Linked DNA regions of Homo sapiens: region 1 is linked to region 2. A link means that fine-mapping ties the variant in region 2 to the expression of a gene that starts in the linked region. Tissue or cell type: liver. Region 2 holds a variant in brackets; the other region holds the start of a gene. All regions are shown on one strand. Distances are from middle to middle.

Evidence for each region. PIP is the estimated chance that this variant, and not a neighbour inherited with it, causes the effect.
Region 1: EPC2 starts here. The variant in region 2 is fine-mapped to the expression of EPC2 in liver (GTEx, PIP above 0.99).

The regions. Positions count from the first base shown.
Region 1 is chr2:148,641,763-148,646,915 of GRCh38, reverse strand. It overlaps EPC2 (enhancer of polycomb 2), which reads right to left and starts at 2,165. Exons shown (of 14, transcript NM_015630.4): 1 at 1,746-2,165. The coding sequence starts at 1,898. RefSeq lists enhancers at 842-991, 1,588-2,092 and silencers at 1,082-1,171, 1,932-2,511.
Region 2 is chr2:149,620,824-149,625,976 of GRCh38, reverse strand. The region is part of intron 1 of MMADHC-DT (MMADHC divergent transcript); the gene reads right to left. Among named protein-coding and RNA genes, the nearest start is that of MMADHC, 36 kb to the right of the region's middle. The variant G/A (reference allele first, on the strand shown) is at 2,194.

The DNA.
Region 1 (5,153 bases), 980 kb after region 2:
CTGGTCTCGAACTCCTGACCTCATGATCCGCCCACCTCGGCCTTCCAAAGTGCTGGGATTACAGGCGTGACCCACCGTGCCCGGCCTAGAACAGATTTGACTCAAGTTCTAAAATAATAGGATCAAAGTAATTACACACAATACTGGTACTTTTAAGGCCATCTTTCTTTGGATCAAGACCCACAAAATAGCAAAAATATCCAAAGTTGTGCTTATTAGGGTTCAATGTAATTAACTATTGTATATAATATGATTTTATTTTAATTTTCCTTCCCATGGAAAACTGAGTCGTTAGAAACAAATTAAAAAAAAAAGTTCTCACATACAAAAAAAAAAGTTCTCACAGCTCTAAACCTTAGGGATAAATGCTGGGTTTTGATTATAAACATATTTATATATATGCACACACAAATATATATGTGTATGTGCGTGTATATATATCTATTACATATTTGTGTGTGTACACACACAGTTAAGTTCATCCCGATGCTACGGCCATATGCATTTTCTACTGAAAATGTAAGACTTTCAAGTAACTATACATCAAAGAGAAATGTGATTAAATAAGAGCAAAGTAGTATTAACAGGGTAACATAATGAGGTCAGAACTCAACCAGCCAATCGAAGGCATAAAAGCATTTCCTGCAATATTAATAGTCAAAAGAGAAAACCAATCACTGAAACCTCGAGCTTCCTTTTGACAGTCACTGAAGCAAGAGAACCAATCCACACACACCCGAGGTTGACAATAAGGCGGGACTGTAGGTTCATTGAAGAAATTCTTGAGGGTGCAGTTACTATGAACTTCGCACGCAAGTAACACCACTCGAGTCATAAACACTCTCTGTCAAGCCAGATGAAATCCAACCGTCTGCAAAATTTAACCCATCGGAGGAAAAGCAGCAATTTTCCCAAAAGGTGCTGTATTATCAAAATTACAACTGCCAATTTAGATGCACTAGGTCCTCAACTTCTAAGGACCACCTCGCAATGACAATTCTCGAGGACAACGCAACGCCGGCGGCTCGCTTCCGGGCATCCCCGGCTCCTCTCTAACGTTGCGCACGGAGCACGGCCGTCCAGGCGGAGCAGGCAGAGCCCGTCCGCCCCGCGCCCGGCTCGGGTCGGCAGAACTGGCCGGCGGGCGGCCCTCGGACGCTACGACCCGCTCGGTAGTCGTGGCCCCCGCCCTCCCCCGCCGCAGTGCTGCACCGCCTCATCCCGCTGCACCTTCGCGGGCGGGGGAGCCAGGATGATTACATTGCTGGGAGGAAGATGTTTGTTTTGAAAGCACCCTTCCACAGTCATTTCAAAGAGAACTCAATACAAAGCCAAAGTTAAAAGTGGAAAAAATAATAATCTTGCCTAGCCAAATAATACCACGCCATTAATTAGCCCCGCGCCTGAGAGAGGGAGGTGGAAAGGTAAACAGAGACCGTACGCCAAGAGCGGCCAGCGCATCCCCTGCGCCATTCCCGGCCGCCGCTTACGGCAAGGCCCCCTTACGGCAGCGTAAGCAGCGCTGCGAGCTAATCACAACACTGGGACGCAACAACATGGCGGCCGCGGGCGGGCGCTACGCCGGCCGAGAGGGTTTACGCTACTCCGCCGGCGTAGAGTCCCGTGCGTTAGAGCGGCAGCGGCGCCCTCCAGCGAGCGTAAAGCGCTCTGTGAATGGCGAGGCCCGACTGACAAAGGGGAGGGGGGAGGAGGGAAGGGGGGGTAATAAACACTCGAGTCCCTACCGATTCCTCCTCCTTCTCCATCCCGGTGGGCATCTGGGGCACGGCCCGGTTGATGGAGACGCAGTCGTTGAGATCAGGCATGTCCTTGCCGCGGTAGATAGGCAGCGGCTTGGCGGCGTCCAGCGCCCGCGCTCGGAAGGAGAGTTTACTCATTGTCTCCCCGCCTTACAGGAACAGCCCGGGCGGCGGCGGCGGGGCGGGCGGGGAGGGGGGGAGGACTCCCGCCGCCTCCTCCACCTCCTTCCTCAGTGCAGCGCGGCCGGCCCGCTCCTCCTCCTCCTCACTGCCCCCGGCCACAGCATGGGCGCCCACCCCGCCCGAAAACAGCCCCCCGCGCCCGCGGCCGCCTCCACACACTAGATCCGCCGCTCGCCCGCCCGATCCGCTCCCTGCGCCATGGCCAACATGGCGGACATTACCACAGCGGCGGCGAGCGATCCCGGCAGCCCGCGCGAGAGCGCGCCCCCGTCGCGGGAACGCGCCTCGCCCTCTCCCTCCCTCCCTCCTTCCTCTCCCTTCCCCTCCCTCGCCTGCCCACCCACTCTCTCCGCGGCGCTGCCGGCCCGCGGGAGCGTGCTCGGTCTCGGTCCGCTCCGGGGAGAGGGGGCGGGGGCGGCGCCCCTCCGCTCGCTGGCCGGTGCTTTCGCTGTGTGGCAGGTGCCAGGTGCGCAAGTTCGCCCGCGCCCGGGAGCGTGCGCCTCTCCCGCCGCCGCCCGGTCACCCCTCTCGCTGGGTGTCCCGGAGGAAGGCGCCGGGCAAAGACGGCTGCGCCGAGCAGCGCGTGTGTGCAGAAGTCCGGGAGCGGGAAGGGAAAATGTCGACCCGGACCCCACCAGCCATCACCCAAGCCTGTACTTGGACAGCGCTATCCCCAAGGCGCCCTGTGCGCAAGCTAATTCGCATCCTCCGAGGCGCACATCCCCGAGAGGTGCAAGAGGTCTCTCCCATCAGTCCCATCAGTCCGTTCGGAGGACTGGACCGCGCTGCTGGTGCCAGCCCTCTTCTACGCCCTCCCCTCCGTACCTGTCCGAAAGAGCTCTCCAAGGTGCAGCAGCGCGTTCATCCTCGCTTTGCAGTGAGGGTTCATGGTTTGAGGCTGCCAGATGCAACAAGTGAACTTAGGTTCCCTGTCACCCAAACTTCGGTACAGCTGTTTAGTGGATGGTAGGTATTTTTCTGAGTTCAAAAATAGTAGCTTTCCTAAAAGTTCAGCTTCTAAAAATTTAGCCAAGGCAGCACACATTTGCGAAGTAGCAGATGTGTGTCAAATGTGGGGTGCTGTGGAAGACTCGAAGAAATCTGAGAAAAGGTTCCTGCCTCAGAGAGCTTTCACCTTAATGGGATGCCAGGATGGCTGGAAAGATGAGTAACAGAGACGTAAATAGTTGAAGAAAATGACAGCTGGAAAGATAAGTGACAACCGAAAAAAAAGTGTAAATATTTTAAGAAAACAATACAAGAGATGACACAGGCAGTAAGTAGCACATGATTAATTACCAAACGAGATCTAGGCAATAATTGTGAGAGTTCAGAGAAAGGAAAGGAGGCATGACTGCAGCCTAAACTGGTTAGAGAAAGTTCTCAAGAGGAGGGAAAATCAAGGTGACTCAAATAAGTACTAGCTATTGTTGACATCAACCTGGTTTAGCCAAGAGGCTCTTGGTTAGTCTTTAAGCATTACACATTTCTCACAAAACCGTACAAAGAGAGTTTTTAACACATTTTACCATTTTCTAATAATCGATCATACTCTAACTCAGAGAAAGTCAGATGATTTCCTAAAGACCAACAGTGAAAAAATTGATTCCTACTGTCATTTCTATGTGACAATAAAACTATATCTCTTCCTCTATTACGTCCTTCTTCCCCTCCTCCACTTCCTCCCCTCCCCCTTTTTCCTCCTGTTCCTCTTCCCCTTTTCTCTCTGCAGTCTCCTCCTTTGAAGGCAGAATGGTGGATATAGTCTTCATGGTAGTGTCCAAATAGTCTAACCAGTCTGTCGCAGCAAAACTCCGAGTATTGTTTAGTGGGGCTTGAGTGTTTTTCATCCACTTTGTTGTTGGAAGCAATGGAGTTGCTGTGACTCATTTCTTGTAAGCAGTACCTTCCTCAAGCTTATGGGCATGTCCTGCTCTCTAAGTGCTACCCCTGGAACAGTTCCAATCCTCTGGAAGCAAGAACAAGAAGTTCTTGGGAGGGGGTCAGCACTGGGTTCAAGCCTGAAAGGGAAGAAAAAAGCAATAGTTGAAGAAATGAGTCATCCAGAGCTTTCATCTGGATGCCCAGCCCTCCTCAGGTTCAGAAAGGATAGCTTTCTTCTAGTCCCTATGTTTAGTTTTACTGTTTCTCTCAGAAAAGGAAATATCAAGTATGTGTAATATACCATCCATTGTAGTAACATGTTATATATATTATCTCAACTAGTTGAATTCCACTTAATTCTTATTATAATTTTATGAAAAAATATAATTTTACCAATAAGAAAACTGAGCATCAGATAATTTGCCAAATTTCAATTCCAACAACTTGCAGAACTGGGCTCAAATTCAGGTCTGACCTGACTCCAAAACTCTGGTTTTCTCAGTGGTGCTACCCTGCTATCCAAGCTCTTCAGCTTATTGACCAGTCAGCATTCTAAAGCTGCTAATTCAAAATTAGTTACTAAGACCTTCCAACCAACGGCCAAGGGAGCGCATAAGCCAGAGCCTAAAGTTGCAGTAGACCAAGGAGGGCAGGAACAACATCTGTCTGTCAATCACTGTATCCCCAGTTCCATGCCTCACATATGGCAGGCATCTAAAGTATATTTGTTGACTGATATTCCATGAAGAAATTCACTGATACTGACCCCATGCCACTCTAGTTTATAGTTCACATACCTCACTGGCCTGTCACCTGACCTAGCTATTGCTGCCAATATTTGTTCTTACTGTGGCCTACCCTGTTGTCCAGCTTTGTACCTTTGTGCATAGAGATTTTAGAACCAATTAATGTTATTCAAAAACACCTTTTTGAAACCTGGAATTTATAGGAAGGGATTTTTGCTGTTGTGGTTGTTTCTTTGTTGTTCTTTTACTTTGACCATGTAAAAGATTTCTTCCCCAAATCTCCATTTTCTTCTCACCCTGTAGGCAATGATTATAGAGCTGGGAATAAAACCATTTAAGGCAAATAACACAATATACTTTTCAACGGAGACACAGCCTGTGTTTTCTTGGCTTCCAATTCAGTGCCCAAACCGGAATGCCACTGTTCACTTTTGGAAAGTAACTTTTATTTGTATATAAATATTACTTTTCATAAAGTTTATTTCTGATTGATTTGTTGAATACTCATATAATTGTTAGTGCTAAAAGCAAAAAATATCTTCTTATAAAATAAAAAATTCTCTCATGAAATATTTTTATC
Region 2 (5,153 bases):
ATTACCCAGTTCAAAATTTCAACTCACTACTTACATGATTTTTCTCTTTAAACAACTTCTGACTTTCATGAACATAGACTCAAATCCAAATAGGGATTATCTCATAAGTTTGTACAAAAATAGGGGAAGTGCTTCGAGATTGCTACAGAAATGTACATCCTACTGGGCATCTAAAAGACAATGTGTGTGAGCTTTAACGAAGCCTTTGAAAGTTTAAAATGCATCAAATTAAAAACCATATCCATTAGAAAAAAATTCTTTCAGCATCTATTCTGTCAATATTTCTGGAAGGAGGTAAAAGGTTTTTATTTAAGATAAGAACACAGTCAGAGATAAATACATTTTCTTTGTAGAGACTAGATATCTCACTGTTGGATATTAATGTTAAGATAAAAGTAAAGCAGATTTGTGCCAGTGGCCATGACAGAAAAGCGAACCACAAAGAAAAAACAATTTTCAAATTGCAAGCAATTGGAATGCTTACAGAGTATCATAAAATCCTGAGGATTTGAAGACAACTTTGAAGACATAAAGTTCAACCACTTATCTATCTAATGTTTAAATCTTCTCCACAGTAAATCGGTCAAATGCTCATTCACCCAGTGTTTAAACATATGCTCTGATAGGGAATGAATTACCTACTGGGGAGCCCATTGCAGTTCTGGGCAGCCGTGATGATTAGTTAGTCCTTCTTGGTATGTTCTACTAAAGTTTGTTTTCTTAGATTTAATATTTATAGATCCTACTTACACGTTGGCATTACATAGGAACTCTTGGCTTGCTAATTCTATACCCTCCCTAACCTCCATTCCTTTCACCTTCCACAGTATGAGCAGAAAAACTAAATCTTCACCTTCCTGGTCTCTGCTTCAGCAAGGGCTTGCCAACATAACCCAGTTCTGGCTAATGAGACATAGGAAAACTCCACATGTGGGTTCTGGGGAAGCTTTTGTCATCCATTCTCTCTTCTTTCTGCCTTGAGTATAAACTTGATTAAGCCAGGATTGCTACTTGCAACCAGGAAGGAGAGTTCACATGTCTAAACCCCTAAATGCTCAGAGCCACCTACCTTCAGACTTAGCACTATTTAGAAAAAGTAAACCCCATCAATCCTGAGGGATTTTAGTCAGGTTTTCTGATGTTTGCATCTGAAGACAAACCTATTTAACACCTATATCATGTGGTCACACAGAAAAGTCAAATACTTATTCCATTTGGTAACACCTCTCGTCTTAATGAAGAGAAAATACTTTACTAAACTGCTACCTGACCCAGGTTGGAGATACTCTTACCTCCAAATGTCAACAACTAGACTATATCTATAATATTATCACAACTACAAAACTATCAGAGTAAACACAAAAGAGAGAATTTAGTTAATGAATGTTGGAGACTCCTGAATTCTGATGTAAGATAATGTAAGCAGTATATTCACTGTTCCTGGTCAATTTCTTCCCTTTCCTAACTTCTCATTCTATTGCTATCTTAGCTCACCTCCAATTTCATTATAAATTAGGATTTCTAGACCCTGGCAAAGCCTGATAGAACAATTTTAATTTGTTTCCTCTTTCTTTTTTTTTTATTTTTCAAGTCTATCAGGATGTCAGTTTTCTAGAAATTACTTGCAGCCATAGTTTAACCTCAAAACAGGGCACTAAATTTCAACTTTCCCAGGATCATCGAATTTGAGCCTCAAGTTGCAATGTCATTTAAAGATAGTGATCTGCTATAATCCTTGTAGACTAATAGCAAAATGCGCCACCAGAAATACGTCTAAAATGTTGACCTATTTTTCTAGCTCTTAATGCATAATACCAATAATGCCATTAGAGAATTTTTATGAGTAGTCTTTTCCAAGAATTAAACGGTGAAACAGAATAAATCTGAATTTATACTGCAATTTATAGCCAGCTCAATCCCTTTTAAAGAAAAGCTGTAATCTTACACCTTCAGAATGATGATTTGATCAATTGCATTTCAGAATCAGTAAGTAGGACTGATTATATATCTCCCATCTACTTCAAAGAAAACTTATAAGGAAGACTGTAGACTAATTAAGAGAATGGACTTTGACATGAGTAAGATCTTTAAATGTGGATTTTGACCATTATGAGCTGACTGATTTAAGGCAAATTACTTTGGTCCATTCATATTCATCATCAGTAAAAATGGAATAAGTATATCTACCTCTTA[G/A]GTTTATTATAGAGATATAATAATTATATTACATATATATCTATATAATATTATAGAGATATAATAATATTGTAGAGATAAACTTAAGTAACACACACATAGTTTAAACATAGAGATAAACTTAAGTAACACACACATAGTTTAAACATTGTCACTAGTGTTCAATAAATGATTAGCTATTACCATTCCTAAAAAAATATTGGTACCCTTTTCTACCTGGTTTCACTGAATTCTTTCACTTGATGTGCTAAGCCAACAACCTTGGTTTCTAATGATTAAAAGCACCGAATATCTAGCATAAGTATAAATTATTTGGACATTTATATAATTTCCTTTTTTATCTCTAAACCATTGCCCATCCTTTTGTAGAAATAGAATCTAGATGATTCAGCAAGAGGTTTTTTAAAAAGACAGAAATGGCAAGGGAGTAGAGGTAGAGCCCCTAATGTTAGACATGTGCTGGAGTTTGTATTGTTCCAGAGCACCCTGAGACAAGGATTTGAGTGCAAATAGCAATTTTAGGAAATGCTGGGTGTAAGGGTAAAGAAGAAGGGAAGGAATACAAAAAAAGAAAAAGGGTGCTTTACCAGTCCCACTAGTATTGTATGCAACTTGAGTTTAATCTCACTGAGGAAACTCTGAGAGCCAGGGAACATACCCCTTCAAATTACTGCATCCAAGAGGCAGGGGAGCTGGGGTATTTATATCTCAGGAGTTGTCCTGAGGTCATTGTTGAAAGCTGCTCCCAGGGTTTGTTAATTCCCAGGCACTTCTGGCTCACTGATCATGGATCATAGGCAAAGCTGTTTTCTGTGCTTCTGCTGAAAAAGAAATGAGATACTGAGATGAAAATACTGGGAGTTGGAAGTCAGGGAAAAGCCCACTGGATGATGACAGAAAGGGAGAAAGGGGACACTGATGGCACGTGCTTCAGGGCACTGAGGACTAAATGAAACCAGAAGAACAGGAGCTAAAACCAAGTTATGGATTGTGACAGGGTAAATCCCAGGGTAAAAATATTACAGAGTAATATTTCAGGGTAAAAAAAATTACAGGGTAGTTTTTTTACAGGATAAAAAATCTCAGGGTAAATCCCAGGGTAAAAAGAATCTGAGCAAGGGAAGTGAAAGGCTGAAATTTTTGTGAAATGAAAAAGCTGGCAGCCCAGAAGAAAGCCAGAATTTTGGCTTGGAGGATGTGGTACACATCTCACACCAAACACTTTCATTTTGGTGTGCCCTAGCAGGAAGCTCATAGTGCTATTGGTCCTTCTCCCATGGCACATGGGCAGCTCTGGGCCTATAGGCGCACCTTTTAATCTGACTGGCTATTGTTGAACATGCAGCACTTCTCAAAGCACATCCATGCAGTAATGGTTCAATACATGCAAATCAATAAACATGATATATGATCAACAGAATCAAGGACAAAATCCATATGATAATTTCAACAGATGCTGAAAAAGCATTCAATAAAATTCAGCACCCCTTCATGATAAAAACTCTCAACAAACTGGATTAGAAGTAACATACATCAACATGATAAAGGCCATACATAACAAGCCTATCCCAAACACACTTTTCAGACACACTTTGGAAGGAGGGGTCCAATTTTGAACAACTTCTCAGGCCTAATCTTTCCTCTCCAAGGAAAATTCAGGTATTTCCAGACTCCACAAGTCCTTTGTACCCAGAACTTTGCTCATGAGCATGACATTTTCTGCACTCTCCTGGCTTTCTGCACAGAATTGGTTGGGTGCCATCCTCCTCTGCAGCAGAGAGCCAGAGAGAAACCTGTGGCTACGGGCTGAGGCCCAGATTCTAGGCTGAAGTAGACTGAAAATTGTGAGAGAACTTGCAATACTTGACCTCTCAGTTCCTGACTCCTTCAGCAAACAATTATTAAGCATCTACTTTTTTTTCATTTATATCTCTAGCAGAGTTACAGGGGCAAGCAGGCCATCCCAAAAACCCCTCTAATACGCTCTGCCAGTTAGTCCATCTGTGCTAAGGAGGCTAAAGTTGTAGAATAGATTGTGATGATTAGATTGTCTCTTATTTTCTGACGACTGAATGCCAAAATCCATGTCCATCCCACCCTTGCTCTTCTTCTGACCAGCTCATCCCAGGGGATGCCTCAGTTAAGTCCATCTTTGAGGCTAGAGACATGTACCCCTGGCAGCAAACATCAGTGGGATCCTTGTCAAACACAATGGTAGTCATTGTCATTAGAGGGGCTTGCAGAACATTTTCAAAGAGCAATATTTTTTGTTGTTAGGCTTCTTGCAGTTGCAATTATAATTAGGGAATTTTAAGAATTTAGGACTTTTTCAGATAAAAATTACAGTATTTTGTTTATACAGAACAACTTTTCACTAGGAATCACATCATTCGTTTTATTGATTTTTTTCATTTTGTATAAAGCCCTGTGGATTTAACATGTTAGAATAAAGATATCTCTGCAGAAGGCAATTCTCATTTTTTAAAAATGGCTGTTGATCAATGTGGAGTTATCCTTACAGATTAATGTAAAAAAGAAACATGTTTAAAAGGCTATTTGAAATTAACTTGGGGACATTTTGAAAGAAAAAATCAATTAAATAATGTGTTTCTAGATCCTTCCTTAAAATATATGAACTTTCCATTTTGCATAGTGACATTTTTTTCAGATACATAGAGATATGAATGAACATCCTTAGAAACAAAACTGAGTCTTTATTTCTTTGGGAGTATCATTACCCTTGAAACAGGATGATAAAGCTGAGAATAGTACCATAAACTCAACTATAAATAACCCACACTAACAAAGGAAAATGCTGGTTGAACGACTTTTTACACACAACAAAAAGCAATAATTTACAGACATTTCCCAGTGAAAACATGGAAGAAGTAAGAAAGAAAAGAGAAATAAATTAGGATGCTAAATGTTGCCTTCACTGTGTCAAGGAAACTAATGTTCAT